4 linked regions of the Homo sapiens genome follow. The protein of the gene in region 1 purifies or fractionates together with the protein of each later gene. This does not show direct contact. Each region holds a gene or a part of one and is shown in the gene's direction. Other genes may lie near its edges. The genes, in order: CLIC4, SEPHS1, PDCD6 and ST13.

Region 1 (4,606 bases):
ATATTTCCCAAAACAAAAAATAGTGAGAAGAGTGGCATTCTTTTACATTTTTGCACATCTTAGAAGAGGTTTCTCGTGTCTGCTTCTGCATTCATTACCTTGTGATATCTTGTACCAAGTAGCCAAGTAAATTTGGAAAATTTTACTATATGTGCACGAGAGGAGAATGAGAGTGAAAAAGGCAAATGATGCCTTAGTATTATAAGAATAGTTCTGACCTAATGGATCACCTGGTGAAAGGGTCTCCTGGCTTACAATTTGAGAAACAGCTGCCCCAGAGGCTGCTTTGTTTTGGTTTGTTGTTGTTGTTGTTTTGAGACAGGGTCTCACTCTGTTGCCCAGGCTGAAGTGCAGTGATATGATCACTGTTCACTGCAGCCTCGACCGCCTGGGCTCAACCAATCCTCCCATCTCAGCCTCCCAAGTAGCTGGGACTACAGGCACATGCCACCACACCCAGCTAATTAAAAAAAATTTTTTTATAGAGATGGGATCTCACTATGTTGCCCAGGCTGGTCTCGCTTGAACTCCTGGACTCAAGCAATCCTCCTGCCTTGGCCTCTCAAAGTGCTAATGTTACAGGTATGAGCCACTGCACCCAGCCTGCCCCAGAGGCTTGATTAGATTCAGGGTCAACTTCTTTGGTAAGAATACTTCATGGTGCCATAGGAAACACACCATATCTGGTCATCTCATTTTTTGATCCTAAAATTCATTGGTGGGTTTGGGTGAGCCATTTTGCTTTTTTAACAAGATAGTACAAACACTTCTTGCTGTTAGTAGTTGTCAGCATAACAGTTTCACCATCTTTATCAGTGTTTTGTGGTGTTTTCAATTTTTCCTAATCAACAGGAGGAAGACATCTTATTGTTTACTTTTAAATTCCCTTTATAGTTGTGCTATTTTACATTTTTCTGTGTGTTCACTTGTTTTATCTGTCTCTCATCAATTTCTTTTGACCCATACCTATTTGATTTTTTTGATGACCTTTGGAATGAATTTGGACAAAATCCTTAGGTAATGTAGATTTTAAGCTTTTCTCACTCAGTACTTTGTCCATTCTTTGTTGCTTTTTACCCTTCATTATGCCATCTTTTATGTATTGAAGTAATTTTGATATTAGATAGTCTAATCTGGTGATCCTTTTCCTTGTCAAGCCTGGACTTCTAGAATAATGGGAAAGAAATAGCACCAGAATTTGGAATCTTTTGAAGTTGAAGATGACTGCAGGATTCAGCTGCTTTTCTCTTTTATTTTGCCAAAAAGAAAAAAAAAGGCCTAGGGAAGTCATGACTTACCCATCTTTACACAATTAGTTGGGGCCAGAGTTGAAACCAGACACTAACTCTCCAAAATCTTTTTTCCCTCCTCATTCTATCACTATCTCTAATGAGTGACTTAGTTAATTTGGAATGAGAATGATGGATTTTGTATTTTGGTTAAAAAAAAAATCAAAGCATTTTCTTACCATAAATTATGTATTTTGTGGAGGCTTGCTTCTTATTAGAATACTATTACAGCTATTATATCTAGTGGAAAAGTACTATTTCTTTCTTTTTTTTGAGACAGAGTATTGCTCTGTCACCAGGCTGGAGTGCAGTGGTGCGATCTTGGCTCACTGTAACCTCCGCCTCCCGGGTTCAAGTGGTTCTCCTTCCTCAGCCTCCCAAGTAGCTGGAACTACAGGTGCATGCCACCATGCCCAGCTAATTTTTATATTTTTAGCAGAGACGGAGTTTCACCATGTTGGCCAGGAGGGTCTCAATCTCTTGACCTCATGATCTGCCCACCTTGGCCTCCCAAAATGCTGGGATTAGAGGCGTGAGCCACCACACCTGGTTGAAAAATACCTTTCTTTCTTTCTTTCTTTCTTTTTTTTTTTTTTTAAGATGGAGTCTTGCTCTGTCGCCCAGGCTGGAGTGCTGTGGTGAGATCTCTGCTGACTGCAGCCTCTGCTTCCGGGATTCAAGCGATTCTCCTGCCTCAGCCTCCTGAGTAGCTGGGATTACAGGCACATGCCACCACGCCCAATTAACTTTTGTATTTTTAGTAGAGATGGGGTTTCACCATGTTGGTCAGGCTGGTCTCAAACTTCTGACCTCGTGATCCTCCTGCCTTGGCCTCCCAAAGTGCTGGGATTACAGCCGTGAGCCACCGTGCCCGGCTGAAAAATACCATTTCTTATTCAGTTTTATATACTTTAAATTTTAGAACCACTTTGATCTCTTTTCTTTTTCTTTTTCTCTTTTTCTTTTTCTTTTCTGACAGGGTTTTACTCTGTCACCTAGGCTGGAGTGCAGTGGTACATTCTCAGCTCACTGCAACCTCCGCCTCCCGGGTTCAAGTGATCCTCCTTCCTCAGCCTCCCAAGTAGCTGGAACTACAGGTGCGCACCACCATGCCCAGCTAATTTTTATATTTTTAGCAGAGATGGGGTTTCACCATGCTGGCCAAGCTGGTCTCAAACTCCTGACCTCAGGTGATCCACCCGCCTCGGCCTCCCAAAGGGCTGGGATTACAGACATGAGCCACCATGCCCGGACAATTTATTTATTTTCTTTTTGAGACAGGGTCTCTCTGTCGCCCAGGCTGGAGTGCAGTGGTGCGATCATGGCTCACTCCAGCCTCAACTTCCCAGGCTCAAGTGATCCTTCCACCTCAGCCTCCCTGGTAGCTGGTACTATAGACACGCACCACCATGCCTGGCTAATTTTTTATGTTTTGTGGAGACAGGATCTTACCATGTTGCCCAGGCTGGGTCTCAAACTCCTGGGCTAAGCAGTGTCCCACCTCAGCCTCCTGTAGTGCTACGACTACAGACGCAAGCCACCGTGCCTGGCCAACTTTGAGAATTTAAAGTATTATTGTTGTTTAAGAGTAAAAAATGATCTGATTTTGACCAATATTTTGCCCAACAGGAAGCCAGCAGACCTGCAGAACTTGGCTCCCGGGACCCACCCACCATTTATAACTTTCAACAGTGAAGTCAAAACGGATGTAAATAAGATTGAGGAATTTCTTGAAGAAGTCTTATGCCCTCCCAAGTGAGTATCAAGGAAAATACGTATGAAAATATTGTCACTTCTTTGAAGCTTGTGTTATTTGTCAGTAGAGATCTTTCTCGCAGCATTAATTTGGAATGACTAGGACTCTCTTCTATGTTTCTTATAATTAATGCTACACAGATATAAGAATTGGCTTCCAGCTAGGCCAATCAGCCATACTAAGAAAGGTGGGGATTTGTCTAAGCTGTAGAATATGTGGTAGAAACAGATTTGGGATGTGTCTGATAGGTCAGGAAAGACTGGTTATTTGTGGACTGTAGGTCTCAAACTGAGAGAGAAGTTTAAAGAGGAGAAGGGGTGGGGAAAGACACATTCCAACTGAACCCAGTAAGAATGTCTTAGCAGGAGTGTGGCACAGGACTGCAATGAGATTTGATTTCAGTTCATTTTAAAGGTAACTTTCTAAAGCTATAATCCAAGGACATTGACTTTTCCGACTGTGTCCCTAGGATTCAGAGTTTTTATTTACTTACTTCTTTGAGGTGTTCCAGATCTCTAGGTCCTGGATGTACTGTAATGATAGTTACCTAAATTGCAGATATGCAGCTTTGCATCATACTGTAATATTGGCATAGATTCAAAGCATTATTTGTTTCTTTTAGGCTTTTCCAGTTTCATTATCCTGAAAATTGACATGTTTTGTTTCTACTGACCAAAACCTTTCTTACTGGTTAACTTGACTGTTGCCCTCCATGTCCAGATATATTTTCCAGGAATGGGATTATTGAGATGGAGGGTTCTAAAATAATTATAGGCATACCCTGAAGGGTATGGTTCCAGACCATTGCGAGTTAGGTTCCAGACCACAGTGATAAAATGAATATTGGAATAAAATGAGTCACGTGAAATTTTTCGTTTCCCAGTGCATGTAAAAGTTATATTTACAGTAGTATACTGTAGTGTTTTAAGTGTGCAATAATAGCATTATGTCTGAAAATATTGCATGTACCTTAATTTAAAAATACTTCATTGCTAGGCTGGGTGTGGTGGCTCATGCCTGTAATCCCAGCACTTTGGGAGGCTGAGGCGGATGGATCACCTGAGGTTGGGAGTTCGAGACCAGTCTGACCAACATGAAGAAACCCCGTCTCTACTAAAAAATACAAAAAAAATTAGCTGGGCGTGGTGGCAGGCACCTGTAATCCCAGCTACTCGGGAGGCTGAGGCAGGAGAATTGCTTGAACCAGGGAGGCAGAGGTTGTAGTGAGCCAAGATCGTGCCACTGCACTCCAGCCTGGGTGACAAAAGCAAAACTCCGTCTCAAAAAAAAATCATTGCTAAAAAATGCTAATGGTTATCTGAGCCTTCAGCGAGTCAATCTTTTTGCCGATGGAGGGTCTTGCCTTGATGTAGCTGGCTACTGACCGATCAGAATGGTGATTGCTGGTTGGGGTGGCTGTGGCAATTTCTTGAAGTAAGATAACAATGAATTTTTCTACATTGATGGACTCTTCCTTTCATGAAAGATTTCTCTGTAACATGCAATAGTGTTTGATAGCATTTAAAAATTTTAAAGTAAATATTCTTTGCCTGAGGCTAAT
Region 2 (4,606 bases), on another chromosome or scaffold:
TTTTATATTTTCAGTAGAGATGGGGTTTCACCATGTTGGTCAGGCTGGTCTCGAACTCCTGAGCTCGTGATCCACCCACTTCGGCCTCCCAAAGTGCTGGGATTATAGGCATGAGCCACCGTGCCCGACCTGTGCATTTTTTAAAATAAAGTTTTGGCCATAGTAATGGTGCCTCAGTGTGAATCAGGCACAGCCTTACAGATGTGGGACACGTGGCACTTAGAGGGCACTCCCTCTGCTGTGGCTGGGGATGTCGTGGACGTAGATGGTGACGGGGGATAGGGCCACCAGGGGCTCACGCCTCTGTGTCATCGCCTAGCATTCTGTGCCCTTGCTGCCTGAACCTGTTCTTTGAACCAGAGATGAATTCCTATTTAGATAGACAGGTACTTGTTTTTGTCCCAAGAGCCCCCAACAGTTTGCCCTGCCTTAGAGAAACTTGAGTTTCCAGTAGGCTCTTTCCTGCCCTTGAACATGGGCTGTAGTCATCAGTGGTGCATGGTGGTCTTGGCGCAGGCTCTGTCAGTGTGGGTTACTCGTAGCCTGCAGCCAAGCCTTGGTAGGATGGATGCCTACTGCAGGGCAGGGGACCTGTGCTTAGGAAGCCAGTCTTGAGATTCTCAAGGAGCACTGGACAGCTGGCTTCCAGCAGTCATCAGACCTAGGGCTGGTCCTGTGCACTGAGTCCAGACAATGTTGGTGTCTGGGCTTTATTTACATTGTTGTCTAGAACATCTTCCAGCATTGGATAAAATGATGACAATGTGAAATATTTTCTAGCTTTTGTTTTTGTTTGTTTTTGAGACAAGATCTCCCTGTGTTGCCCAGGTTGGAGTGCAGTGGTGTGATGAGAGCTCACTGCAGCAGCCTCAGCCTCCCGGGCTCAAGACATCCTCCCACTTCAGCCTCCGGAATAGCTGGGACCACAGGCACATGCCACCACACCAAGCAATATTTTTTTTTTTTGTTTTTGAGATGAAGTCTCACTCTTGTGCCCAGGGCTGGAGTGCAGTGATGCGATCTTGGCTAACTACAACCTCTGCCTCCCAGGTTCAAGCGATTCTCCTGCCTCAGCCTCCCAAGTAGCTGGGATTACAGGCGCATGCTACCACACCCGGCTAATTTTTGTATTTTTAGTAGAGACGGGGTTTCACCATGTTGGCCAGGCTGGTCTCAAACTCCTGACCTCAGGTGATCTGCCCGCCTCAGCCTCCCAAAGTGCTGGGAATACAGGCATGAGCCACTGTGCCCGGTCACCCAGCAATTTTTACATGTTTCGTAGAGAAAGGGGTCTGTCTGCATTGCCCAGACTGGTCTTAAACTCCTGGGCTCAAGCTCTCTGCCCACCTCGGACTCCCAAAGTGCTGGGATTACAGGCGTGAGCGATTATGCCTGGCCCCTAACAACCTTCCCTGTCTGTAAACTTTGAGGACTTCCTTTAGGATTTTATGGTTCTTTTTATAACTGTAAGTGTAAAAACCTTCTTTTCTGGGTTTTGAACAGAATTCTTTGACTTTTTATTTGTACCTTTTTCAACCTTAGGAAAGGGATAAAGTGATGCCTCTGATTATCCAAGGTTTTAAAGACGCAGCTGAGGAAGCAGGAACATCTGTAACAGGCGGCCAAACAGTACTAAACCCCTGGATTGTCCTGGGAGGAGTGGCTACCACTGTCTGCCAACCCAATGAATTTATCATGTAAGTTGATTTTTGTTTCATATCACCTGACCTGTTTTTCTCTCTCTGTCCTCTCTTTTTAAAAATTGATGTATTAAGGTCAGGTGCAGTGGCTCACACATATGATCCCAGACTTTGGTAGGCCGAGGCGGGCAGATCACCTGAGGTCAGGAGTTTGAGACCAGCCTGGCCAATGTGGCGAAACCCTGTCTCTACTAAAAATACAAAAATTAGCCAGGCATGGTGGGGCAAGCCTGTAGTTTCAGCTACTCTGGAGGCTGAGGCAGGAGAATCGCTTGAACCCCAGGGGTGGAGGTTGCAGTGAGCTGAGATCATGCCCCTGCACTCTAGCCTGGGCAACAGAACAAGATTCTGTCTCCAAAAAAAAAAAAGACAAGAACGCAAGGCTGGGCGCGGTTGCTCATGCCTGTAATCCCAGCGCTTTTGGAGGCCAAGGCGGGTGGATCACCTGAGGTTGGGAGTTTGAGACCAGCCTGACCAACATGGAGAAACCCCATCTCTACTAAAAATACACAATTAGCCAGGCATGATGGTACATGCCTGTAATCCCAGCTACTTGGGAGGCTGAGGCAGGAGAATCACTTGAACCCAGGAGGCTGCGGCTGCAGTGAGCCAAGATCGCGCCACTGCACTCCAGCCTGGGCAACAAGAGCGAAACTCCATCTCAAAAAAAAAAAAAAATAGATGTATTAAGATATAATTTGCGTACTATACCATTCACCCATTTAAAGAGTCAGTGGTTTGGAGTATACTCAGAGTTGTACAGCCATTACCGGAGTTGATGTTAGGATGTTTTCATTGCTACAGGAAGAAACCCCATCCTCCTCGGCTCTCACTGTTCACTCCTGCTCCATCCTGGATTTTGTCACTTAGCATAGTATTAGCATACTTTTAAGGGTCATCTATTTTGTAGCATGTGTCAGTATTTTAATCCTATTTTTAAGACATTTTAGGTGTTTTTGTTTTTTTTTTTTGAGACGGAGTCTTACTCCGTCGCCCAGGCTGGAGTGCAGTGGTATGATCTCGGCTCACTGCAAGCTCCATCTCCCGGGTTCATGCCATTCTCCTGCCTCAGCTTCCCGAGTAGCTGGGACTACAGGCACCTGCCACCATGCCCGGCTAATTTTTTGTATTTTTAGTAGAGATGGGGTTTCACCATGTTAGGCAGGATGGTCTCGATCTCCTGATCTCATGATCCGACCGCCTCAGCCTCCCAAAGTGCTGGGATTACAGGCGTGAGCCACCGCGCCCGGCTGACATTTTAGGTTTTTTAGTTGAAGTATAATTCACGTAACAAAATTTCACATAACATAGAATTCAGCATTTTGAAGTACACAATGTGTTGGTTTTTAGTATTGACAAGGTTGTGCACCCATCACCACTATCCAATTCCAGAATGTTTTCATCACCCCAAAAAGAAGCCCTGTAGCTCACTCCCATTTCCCTCCTGCTCCCATCCTCTGGCAACCAAGAATGTGCTTTTGTCTCTAAGGATTTGCCTGTTCTGGACATTGTATAGAAATGGAATCGTGCAGCATGACATGCTGTGTCTGGCTTCACTCCCATAGCGGAATGTTTTCCGGGTCCATCCGTGTTGTAGCATGAATCGGTATCGCATTCCTTTCCATGGCTGTATAATCCATTGCATGGATGGACCCTGCTTTATTTAGCCATTCCTCAGGTGACGGACCTTTGGGTTGTTTCCACCTATTAGGAATGATGCTGCCATGAACATTCTAAGTTTTTGTGTGGACATAAGTTCCGGTCTCTTGGGTGTATACCTAAGAATTGACTGGGTCATGTGGTAATTATGTTTAACTTGAGGAATCATCAGACTGGTCTCCAACATGGCTGCGCCATTTTACGTTCCCAGCAGCAATGTATGAGGATTCCAATTTCTCTATGACCCCTCCAGTACTTGTTTTCCTGTCTGTCTTTTGGATTCTAGCCAGCCTACTGGGTGTGAAGTGGAATGTCTTTGTGGTTTTGATTTGTGTCTGCCTGATGACTGATGAGGCCGAGCATCTTTTCATGTGCTTACTACCCATTTGTGTATCTTCTTTGGAGAAGTTTCTCTCCTAACCAAGTTGTCACTTTCCATGTTTGATGTCTTGTTAAGAAAAGTCAGTCTTTTGGCCGGGCGTGGTGGCTCATGCCTGTAATCCCAGCACTTTGGGAAGCCAAGACGGGTGGATCATCTGAGGTCAGGAGTTCAAGACCACCCTGGCCAACATGGTGAAACCCTGTCTCTACTAAAAATACAAAAAATTAGCCGGGCACGATGGCAGGCGCCTGTAATCCCAGCTACTCAGGAGACTGAGGAGAGTGGTTTGAACCCAGGAGGCGGAGGTTGCAGTGAGCCAAGATCGTGCCACTGTACTCCAGCCTGGGTGACAGAGTGAAACTCAGTTTCAAAAAAAAAAGATCTAGAATTAGAAATACCATTTGACCCAGCAATCCCATTACTGGGTATATACCCAAAGGATTATAAATCATGCTGCTGTAAAGACGCATGCACACATATGTTTATTGCAGCACTATTCACAATAGCTAAGACTTGGAACCAACTCAAATGTCCATCAATGATAGACTGGATTAAGAAAATGTGGCACATACACACCGTGGAATACTACGCAGCCGTAAAAAAGGATGAGTTCATGTACTTTGCAGGGAGATGGATGAAGCTGGAAACCATCATTCTAAGCAAACTATCAAAAGGACAGAAAACCAAACGCCGCATGTTCTCACTCATAGGTGGGAGTTGAACAATGAGAACACTTGGACACAGGGCGGGTAACATCACACACCAGGGCCTGTCGGGGGTAGGGGGCTGGGGGAGGGATAGCATTAGGAGATATACCTAATGTAAAGGACGGGTTGATGGGTACAGCAAACCAACATGGCACATG
Region 3 (4,606 bases), on another chromosome or scaffold:
AAGAGCACAGCTTCCCTGCATAACTGCTGGAGGGCGGGTCATCGAGTGCTGCTGTGTGTGTATGCCTCGGGTTCAGGTGCACCTGCCTTTGTGGGAAGAGCACAGCTTCCCTGCATAACTGCTGGAGGGCGGATCATTGAGTGCTGCTCTGTGTGTGTGTGTGTGTGTGTGTGTGTGTGTGTGTGTGCCTTGGGTTCAGGTGCACCTGCCTTTGTGGGAATAGCACAGCTTCCCTGCATAACTGCTGGAGGGCGGGTCGTGGAGTGCTGCTGTGTGTGTGTGTGTGTGTGTATGCCTCGGGTTCAGGTGCACCTGCCTTTGTGGTAAGAGCACAGCTTCCCTGCATAACTGCTGGAGGGCGGGTCATCGAGTGCTGCTGTGTGTGTGGGCCTCAGGTTCAGGTGCACCTGCCTTTGTGGGAAGGGCACAGCTTCCCTGCATAACTGCTGGAGGGTGGGTCGTGGAGTGCTGCTCTGTGTGTATGCCTCAGGTTCAGGTGCACCTGCCTTTGTGGGGAGAGCACAGCTTCCCTGCATAACTGCTGGAGGGCGGGTCATGGAGTGCTGCTGCTGTGTGTGTGTGTGTGTGTGTGTATGCCTCGGGTTCAGGTGCACCTGCCTTAGTGGGGAGAGCACAGCTTCCCTGCATAACTGCTGGAGGGCGGGTCATCGAGTGCTGCTCTGTGTGTATGCCATGGGTTCAGGTGCACCTGCCTTTGTGGGAAGAGCACAGCTTCCCCGCATAACTGCTGGAGGGTGGGTCATCGAGTGCTGCTGTGTGTGTGGGCCACGGGTTCAGGTGCACCTGCCTTTGTGGGGAGAGCACAGCTTCCCTGCATAACTGCTGGAGGGTGGGTCATCGAGTGCTGTGTGTGTGGGCCACAGGTTCAGGTGCACCTGCCTTTGTGGGGAGAGCACAGCTTCCCTGCATAACTGCTGGAGGGCGGATCATTGAGTGCTGCTCTGTGTGTATGCCTCAGGTTCAGGTGCACCTGCCTTTGTGGGAAGAGCACAGCTTCCCTGCATAACTGCTGGAGGGCGGGATCTTCCCAAGGGGAAGTTGGGAGGTGCTCAGGCGGAGCAAATGGATTTAACTTCTGGGCTGGGAGAATGTGGTACCCCCGTGGAAGTCTCCCTGAGGAAGGAAAGGAAGGAGCTGGAGGGAGGGTGTGTGTGTCTTAGGAGGGGACGCACTTCAGGTGAGAGCGGGCATGGCACTAGGAGGAGCCCCATGAGCCCAGAGTGGTGGCACGTAGAGGCCTAAGGGACCATGCCAGCAGACCCCACCGCCCGTGCTCCACCAGGAGCCTGACATTGTTCTCTGAGATCAGGGGGCTGTCTCTGTGTACTGCCCAGGACTGTGGCATTTTTGTGCATAAAAAAAAAAAAAAACTGTGTGTCTAACACAGACGGGGTATGAGGAGAGCCACTGGTCTCTCCTGACCTTAAAAATATTTTTTTAGTTCATTTTTAGTGAGTATGGAAATTACTGAAGGTACAAATCACTCTGAAGATAGGTTCTTGTGTGCGAAGGTCATCAGTGAATCTTCATTCTCAGAGTTGATAAATGGTTGTGAGCGCTCAAGGGTATCAGATTCAACGATGAGTCTGAGGATAGTACAGCTTTCCTATTCAGTTTCAAGGAAAATCATATAAAGCCCAGACCGTAATTTGTCAGGAATGTTTGAAGTGTGGTGTGATGGATGTCTTCACCGTGCTTTAGGATGATTACTGAGGGAGAACGGAAGGAAGGGGTCTGGTACTTGCACCTTTCAGTAGAATTAGTGTGAATGCCACAGCGACCAAGCTATGTTCAGGTGTCTGCAGGCAGTGGTGGCCTTGATGATGGATTTTCTGAAATGGGAATTCGTGAAGTCCTCTAACAAAACTAAGTGCGAACTTCTCAACTTAGCTGGTGACTGCATCCTTGAAAAATTCTGTGTGTAAAATGATACAGAACCATTTCTTGGTTATCTGTTAAATAAGAGTGCATGTCCAGCCGCGATGACTGTGGACGGCCTTGGAGGTCTGGGAGGCCACGAAGGACTCCCACACACAGCAGGGTGTGAACCCACCAGGCAGTGCTTTGGCCCCCTCCCAGGAGTCATGGCAGCCGACACGTCACCTGGAGTGTCTAGAAAACCACTACCTTAGAGCCCCCACTGCTTTTCCTGGTGCCTCCAGGTATAGATCACAAACTCAGTGTCCCAGAAAGATTTTCCTTTTACTTTAACTCCTGTTGTTGTTTGTTTTCAGGCACGTGGACTCCCTTTAATCCAGTGACTGTCAGGTCGATCATATGTAAGTATCGGCAGACGGACCAACCTGGGCTGCTTTGTATCCGACCCGCTTGGGTACCCGCTTGTGTTTCCTTTGTCTGTGGGTCCGTATCACTTTGCTCCCTTCTGGAATTCCACTTAGATGAGCGTCGGCCCTTTCATCCCTCTCCCTCCGTCTCTGTACCTTTTCACATCTCTCCGTGTATGTTTGCTCTATTCTTGATTCTGTTTATTTTTAATGTACGGTGTAACCTGTCCTTTCAGTTTCTAATTCTAAAGATGACATATATTTAAAATTTCTAAATTATTAGTTACTTTCACATCTTATCTGGGTGTTTTTGATAGACATTGCTTATTTATTTTTGTGATTCCATTCTTTATTCAAATATTTCATATGATAGTCTTCAGTTTTAAGAACATGCTTTTTTGAAAAGCGCTAGATATTTGTGACATGGAGCTCCTTGACTGTGTTTGAAGTCCTTGGGAGGGTGGTCTACAGCCAGATATTTTTCCTGCTCAAGCCCACACAGAGTGACCAACTTCCTTGATGCTTCTGTAATTTTTGTTTGTTTTGTGGGTTCATGTGTAGCCTTAATGTGAGGGTCTGCATCATTTCTTTGGGTCCAGGGTCTCCCCAGCTGTATAGGCAGCTGGGTTTTTGTTTGTTTCTTTTAAGAGACAGGGTGTCCCTGTGCTGCCCAGGCCTGGTCTGGAATTCCTGGGCTCACGCAATCCTCCTGCCTCAGCCTCCCAAAAAGTGGGGATTACAGGTGTGCACCCCCATGCCCAGACGGTAGCCGGGGTGTGAGCTGAGGCTCCAGGCGCAGGCAGGTGTTCAGGAGAGTCGTGCTGTGTCTCCATCCCCCGTAGCCAGGTGGGAGCTGCAGCTCCAGGGGCAGGCAGGCCTGGGAGGCAGGTGTTCAGGAGAGTCATGTTTCCATCCCTACCCGACTTGATTTCTGGAAGGTTCCCTTTGCTGGGAGGTGCAGCCCCCTTCAGACCTCTTTAATATGGAATCCCAGGTTCAGTTCTGCCTCACAGGGACCATGGCATTGTGTCTCGAGGTTTCCCAGAGCGGCCTGGGGCTCATTCCCTCGCCTCCCATCCATGCACGTGTTTTAGTCTTGTGAGGATTCCCTGAGTTCCTTGCGGAGCCTGTGTGTGGTGAGGTGTCTGAGTCCTAGTGTGGGTGTAGCTGGGGGCTTTTCCAGATGACTGTGCCCTGCTGGTCGTGCATATGTTGCTACGTCACACTGATGGAGGGAGAGAAAACTTGGAAGTGTAGTAGTGGCAGGGCTCAGCCTTTAGTGCTAGAAAAGGTGTTGATACATGGGGAGCTACCTCCCCACCGGAGAGGAATGGCCTGGGAGCCACTCCTCTGCGGAGCCCTTACCCTGGGGTGCAGCTCACCCAGCATCCTTCCCTGCTGGTGTGTGGTGCGCAGTGGGTCCTGCACGCAACAGCATCGTCCACACACACTGCACACATCGTGGAATGGTCGTATGAAAAACAGCCCCTGGTCCACACACCACACACGTCGTGGAACGGTGCACGTCGTGGAACGGTTGTGTGAAAAACAGCCACTGGTTGCACACAGGGTTGTGGACTGTTGGGAAGAAACATCGATGCTGTTTCTCACATGATTTTTCATCCTGTGGATTTTCATTTAATTGTAACATATTTCTGATCAAACCAGGAGTAGTCTTATTGCAGTCCTGTATTAACCTCTGTTCTTGAAAAGAGACCACGTGATTTATCATTTTCTCTGCAGCAGTAATTCACACTGAATTTTTCTATGTTTTTTAGCCATATTGCAACTACATATAAAGGTAGTTATAGATTCTTTTGTATTTGGACCTGGAGTTAGACTGAAAGCAAATAGGACATAGGCGAGGGTCTGTTTCTAATTAAAGCAGGTTTTCCTGACAGGGCTGTTCCAAGACTCCACCAGTGCTGTGGGCCCTGGAGAGTCAGAGGGTCAGCTCTGGGAATTAGATTCGCGTTCTAGGCCGAGACCCAGGAGCCAGGGGAGCTGGGGCCACTTACCTTCCCCGTGCCTCGGAAGCTGAGTGTGAAGCTCTGCTCTTCTTTCTGTCGTGGCTGCGGCTGGATTTCCTCACACATCCCATTGCACGGCCTGCCTCACAGCTGCAAGTGCACCTTCTCCTGGGACTTAGGGGGTCAGGGCTGGGGGACAATCCCCCACACCCCCACCCAGGGCGAAGGTGACAAGACTTTAAGGGATTTCACCCCATTCACAGACAGGCATGCATTGCCCAGTCCCTGGTTAGTGGTCAGCAGTGGGGCCCCGCCAGGCTCTGAGGGCTG
Region 4 (4,606 bases), on another chromosome or scaffold:
TACTGTCACCAACCTTTAGTTTCTGGTTTACTTGTTCTGAGTTTTTCGTAAAGCCTGTACACATGTATTATTTTCTCTTCTGTCTTACATAGAAGGTAGCTAAAAGCTAACACATTATGTTAGTCCTGGTTTGGGCGAGTTGAAAGTTACTGGTCTACATACTTAGAAAATTACGATATTCTGAATTAAGAAAGATTTTGTTTGTTTTTTAGCTTTTAGTAGAAAAGCAGCTTTAAATAGAGGAAATTTAAATGTTTTCAGGTTTTTATAGAGTTAACTAAAATGGGATATAGTAATTGAATTGGTTAGTGAAAGTTTATAGTTAATATTTAACTTAAGCCTGTTTTAGAACAATCCTTTTTTGTAAGGAAGAAAGATATCATGCCACATAGGTGAATATGTATAAAAGGCTCCTAAAATGAGTGTAAATCTGTTTCAGACTTCTAGGCCACTGGGAAGAAGCAGCCCATGATCTTGCCCTTGCCTGTAAATTGGATTATGATGAAGATGCTAGTGCAATGCTGAAAGAAGTTCAACCTAGGGTATGTCAAAGTAGAGAAAGGGAAAGTCATTAGTTAAATACTCCATCGCTGTAGTGCTTAGCCCCCGACAGCTGTAATTCATCTGAAAAACAGGCAAAGAAACAAACCATTGGAAGATATAATCTGTAATTGCTGAAGTTTGTGCTCGACTCTGGAGATCTCATTAGGTTTTCATGCTTTCATTTCTCATGCATTATTAGAGCAAACTCTGTTACTTTGTTTGGAAGCCTGCAGTGGAATTATAACCAGAAAATTAGAAAAGGGGGTATCAGGTTTACAACAAGGAAACAAATAGAAAATCTATAATTAGCATTACCCAGGATTGAATCTGATGTGTCCTTATTTATCATAGGTGTGTACAACCACTTTATAAAGCAAGAAGACCTTGTGGAAGTTAAGAAGTTTCAGGCTTTCCGGCCAGGCGCGGTGGCTCATGCCTGTAATCCCAGCACTTTGGGAGGCCGAGGCAGGTGGATCATGAGGTCAGGAGTTCAAGACCAGCCTGGCCAACGTAGTGAAACCCTGTCTCTACTAAAAGTACAAAAAGTTAGCCAGGTGTGGTGGCATGCGCCTACGTAGTCCCAGCTACTCGGGAGGCTGAGGCAGGAGAATCACTTGAACCTGGGAGGTGGAAGGTTGCAGTGAGCCAAGATCACGCCACAGCACTCCAGCCTGGGTGACAGAGCGAGGCTGTCTTAATAAAACAAAGAAGTTTCAATCTTTTAAAAATAATAATATTGAATCCCAAAAGTAGAACATTCCAGCTTTTAAGGATGATTTTTATCTAAAATTGTTGGTTAAAATAATTTTAATGTGTTTACATGGTAAATCCTTCATTTTGTGGGAAGTTCAGCTGTCAAGAATTTACTCTCAGAGATTTTAAGATAGTGGGAATTGTATTGAATTTAATTATTTACTGCCAGAGAGTTCATTTGGTTTTCTGTTTTCTTCTTAAAATAGGGCAAAGTTGTAACTTTGTCAGCAAAGTGTAAACAAGCTAAAGTGACAGTTGAATATGAATCTCTTAAATGTATTTTATTCTCTGAGGAAATAACATCCAGAGCATTTATTTGATACTAGTGTCTGGTATACATATTTACATTTTTCCCTCTTAATCCCTATAGCAATTTGATAATATTAAATATTTCTTCCTCTCCCATTTTATGGATACAGAAACTTAAATATACTGTGGCATATACTTGGGGTATGAGTTCCCAGTCTCTGCCTTCCCACGGCAGACATCCGTAATAATACTCTTCCTACTGAATTCAGCTGTCCGTCTGAAACCTAAACACTGTGTATCTGATAGAAACTAGCAGGCAAGAATTGTCATGCACTTAGAAACCTGTTTGTTAATCTTTGAGCTTAATTGTTTGAGATTATAACATTTCTAACTTCAAATCCCAGGCCCCTTTACTCTGTTTTACAGTGCCTCATGCAGTTGAGGTTGGTTTTCTTAAAGGCTTAGCTTGTGTTAGGTCTTTTTGTACAAGACAAATCTGTCATTTTTCTGAACTGCATGTTGAATTAAACATCTCTCTACAAAGAATATTTGTGTTGATGTTATTCAGCTTTTGGAGCAAGCTTATTTTGCTATGGCTCTTTTTTCTAGGCACAGAAAATTGCAGAACATCGGAGAAAGTATGAGCGAAAACGTGAAGAGCGAGAGATCAAAGAAAGAATAGAACGAGTTAAGAAGGCTCGAGAAGAGCATGAGAGAGCCCAGAGGGTAAATTTCCTATAGCTAAGCCATGAAAGGAAAATACGGCAAATTATGTAGAGGCATTAGGACACTAAAATTTTAATTCCTGGCTCTTTTATTTAATGCTGGCTACAGTTCTATAGAGTAATGATATTACTTATGGGGAGTCTCCTTTCACTGTATCTAATTTGGGGGACATTTTTAGTCTTAAATTATTCAGTGAGCTTTTATTTCACCATTTTATATTCTTGTTTGTGTTTTTATAAAATCAGTTGTTTTTCCAGGTCAAGTAATTGAAATGTGACAGTATTATTGTTTGATCTTTTGAGGATGCTTCGCCAGATTAATTAAATTTATGATTCCTCCTCTCTTCCAACAGTGGATGTGTTGCTATTTAAAAATGATTCTAGCAGGGCAAGGTGGCAAGTGCCTATAGTCCCAGCTCTTGGGAGGCTGTGGTGGGAGGTTCACTTGAGCCCAGGAGTTCGAGACTAGCCTGGGCAACATAGTGTGATGCTACAATAATTCACCTACTTATTTCTAACATTATTGAATGAAAGAACATGAAAGAACCTAAGGCTGTATTATATAATATGTTACATTCTAATTTTTTGTCCATTTAATATTAAGCATCATACTTGATTTTAAGGTTATAGTTTATAATCTTTAAAAGTAATTTATCTCCTTGATATTTAAAAGCAATATATCTCCTCAATAATTTTAAAACTACATATGAGGGATATTTATTTTTTGTTCATTTTCTCTTTTAAAAAGCAGCAAAAACAAATCAATAAATCTACATTTGTATTATGTAGGGAGAATAACGGAAAAGATGTACCTAGGAAACAAAAGTCATGGTAGTCTTGGTAATCTAGCCATGTCCTTCCCTATGGGTGTTTTAAAGCCAGGATGAATTTAGAGTTTTCATATTAGTACTATAAATTGTTTTCCAGGTTTACTTGTTTCCAGAGTAGAAGTAAAACACTTTACTTGAAATTACTACCAAGAATAATGCCCACTGAGAATCCAGTTTGGAAAAAATGTTTGAAGGGGGTATGAAGTATATCCTTCAGTTCAGTATTGCCATCTACTAGGTTATTTTACAATTTTTTCATGGTCTTGCATGGACAGGTTGCATGGACAGCACTTATTTCTTCTTCTATTATATAATTTATTTCCTTTTGTATCAAAGGAGGAAGAAGCCAGACGACAGTCAGGAGCTCAGTATGGCTCTTTTCCAGGTATATTTAAAGAAAAGTTAAAACTGTTTTGTTCTATTATACAGTGATATTTTAATATAATACTTAATATTTATTATAAAGTGATATTCTGATTTTGTTCTCTTATACAGTGATATTCATGAAGAACCTAGGTAAAAGAAATGATGGAATTATTAGGCATAAAAATGATGTTTTTTGTACAGTGTAAAAATAGCGTATTTTTCTTTCAAATGTGATCAGAAATTGCTAGTGAGGCAAATCTTTGAATACCAGAGGACAGGACTAACACAGAGATAGAAGAGACGGAAAAGGCACGCAGAAGATTTATTGAGTACTTCCTGATTACGACAGTGTGGAATTTATATAAAGACCAGGACAAGACTTAATTTTTTGTTTTTTAAACAACTGTCTCCAGTTGTTTAATGGTAACTAGCTTTCTCTTAAGGAAAGTTTTTAGAGGCTACGTATGCTTATATGTCACTGGTTAGAACTTAGTTGCATGATCCGATGCTAGAAAATCTAGCCTTTATTCTGAAAGAGTATGTGCACAGCAACAGAAAACAAACCTAGAACAAATATTGAGGATGACCTGCTGTTTGAAGAAAAAGCAAGAAATTAAATTTAGCTCATAGTTTACTTCCTATGTAAAATATAAATAATCTTATTGTCAGATATCTTTGTTTTAGAAAGTGACTGCTAATGTTGGGCTAGTACTAGAGAGAATTTTCTGTTATGTACATTTTATTTAGATTTGACAAGCTTTGGGTCAGTAATTTCGTTACGGGTAGGCACTAATTTTTCAAAGCTTTGGGATAAGTAGGGGCAGCAAGAGAAACTAGAAGTTGTTTTATGGTCCCCTTAGATTTCTTCATCTCTGATTGTTAGTTATTAATGGCCATATTTTAATTAACTGTGGAAGCAGGTAAAAATGACTTTATCATGTGTTTCCTTCTTTAAAACGGCTTTACTTACAGTGACCCTTTGTAGAATACATTAATGTTGTCTTTCTCTATATTATTTTTTTTTTTATTATTGAGACAGAGCCTCGCTCTGTCGCCCAGGCTGGAGTGCAGTGGCGTGATCTTGGCTCACTGCAAGCTCCGCCTGCCGGGTTCACGCCATTCTCCTGCCTCAGCCTCCCG

What was found.
Region 2: the proteins of CLIC4 (region 1) and SEPHS1 fractionate together in Homo sapiens (co-fractionation; one large-scale study listed by BioGRID). This does not show direct contact.
Region 3: the proteins of CLIC4 (region 1) and PDCD6 fractionate together in Homo sapiens (co-fractionation; one large-scale study listed by BioGRID). This does not show direct contact.
Region 4: the proteins of CLIC4 (region 1) and ST13 fractionate together in Homo sapiens (co-fractionation; one large-scale study listed by BioGRID). This does not show direct contact.

Annotation. Positions count from the first base shown.
Region 1 is NC_000001.11:24,811,176-24,815,781, forward strand, and holds part of CLIC4 (chloride intracellular channel protein 4), read left to right. Parts: intron 1-2,918; coding exon 2,919-3,044; intron 3,045-4,606. UniProt on the Homo sapiens protein: In the soluble state, catalyzes glutaredoxin-like thiol disulfide exchange reactions with reduced glutathione as electron donor. Can insert into membranes and form voltage-dependent multi-ion conductive channels.
Region 2 is NC_000010.11:13,330,908-13,335,513, reverse strand, and holds part of SEPHS1 (selenide, water dikinase 1), read left to right. Parts: intron 1-1,542; coding exon 1,543-1,697; intron 1,698-4,606. UniProt on the Homo sapiens protein: Synthesizes selenophosphate from selenide and ATP.
Region 3 is NC_000005.10:301,922-306,527, forward strand, and holds part of PDCD6 (programmed cell death protein 6), read left to right. Parts: intron 1-2,255; coding exon 2,256-2,300; intron 2,301-4,606. UniProt on the Homo sapiens protein: Calcium sensor that plays a key role in processes such as endoplasmic reticulum (ER)-Golgi vesicular transport, endosomal biogenesis or membrane repair.
Region 4 is NC_000022.11:40,828,505-40,833,110, reverse strand, and holds part of ST13 (hsc70-interacting protein), read left to right. Parts: intron 1-439; coding exon 440-542; intron 543-2,154; coding exon 2,155-2,271; intron 2,272-3,436; coding exon 3,437-3,485; intron 3,486-4,606. UniProt on the Homo sapiens protein: One HIP oligomer binds the ATPase domains of at least two HSC70 molecules dependent on activation of the HSC70 ATPase by HSP40. Stabilizes the ADP state of HSC70 that has a high affinity for substrate protein.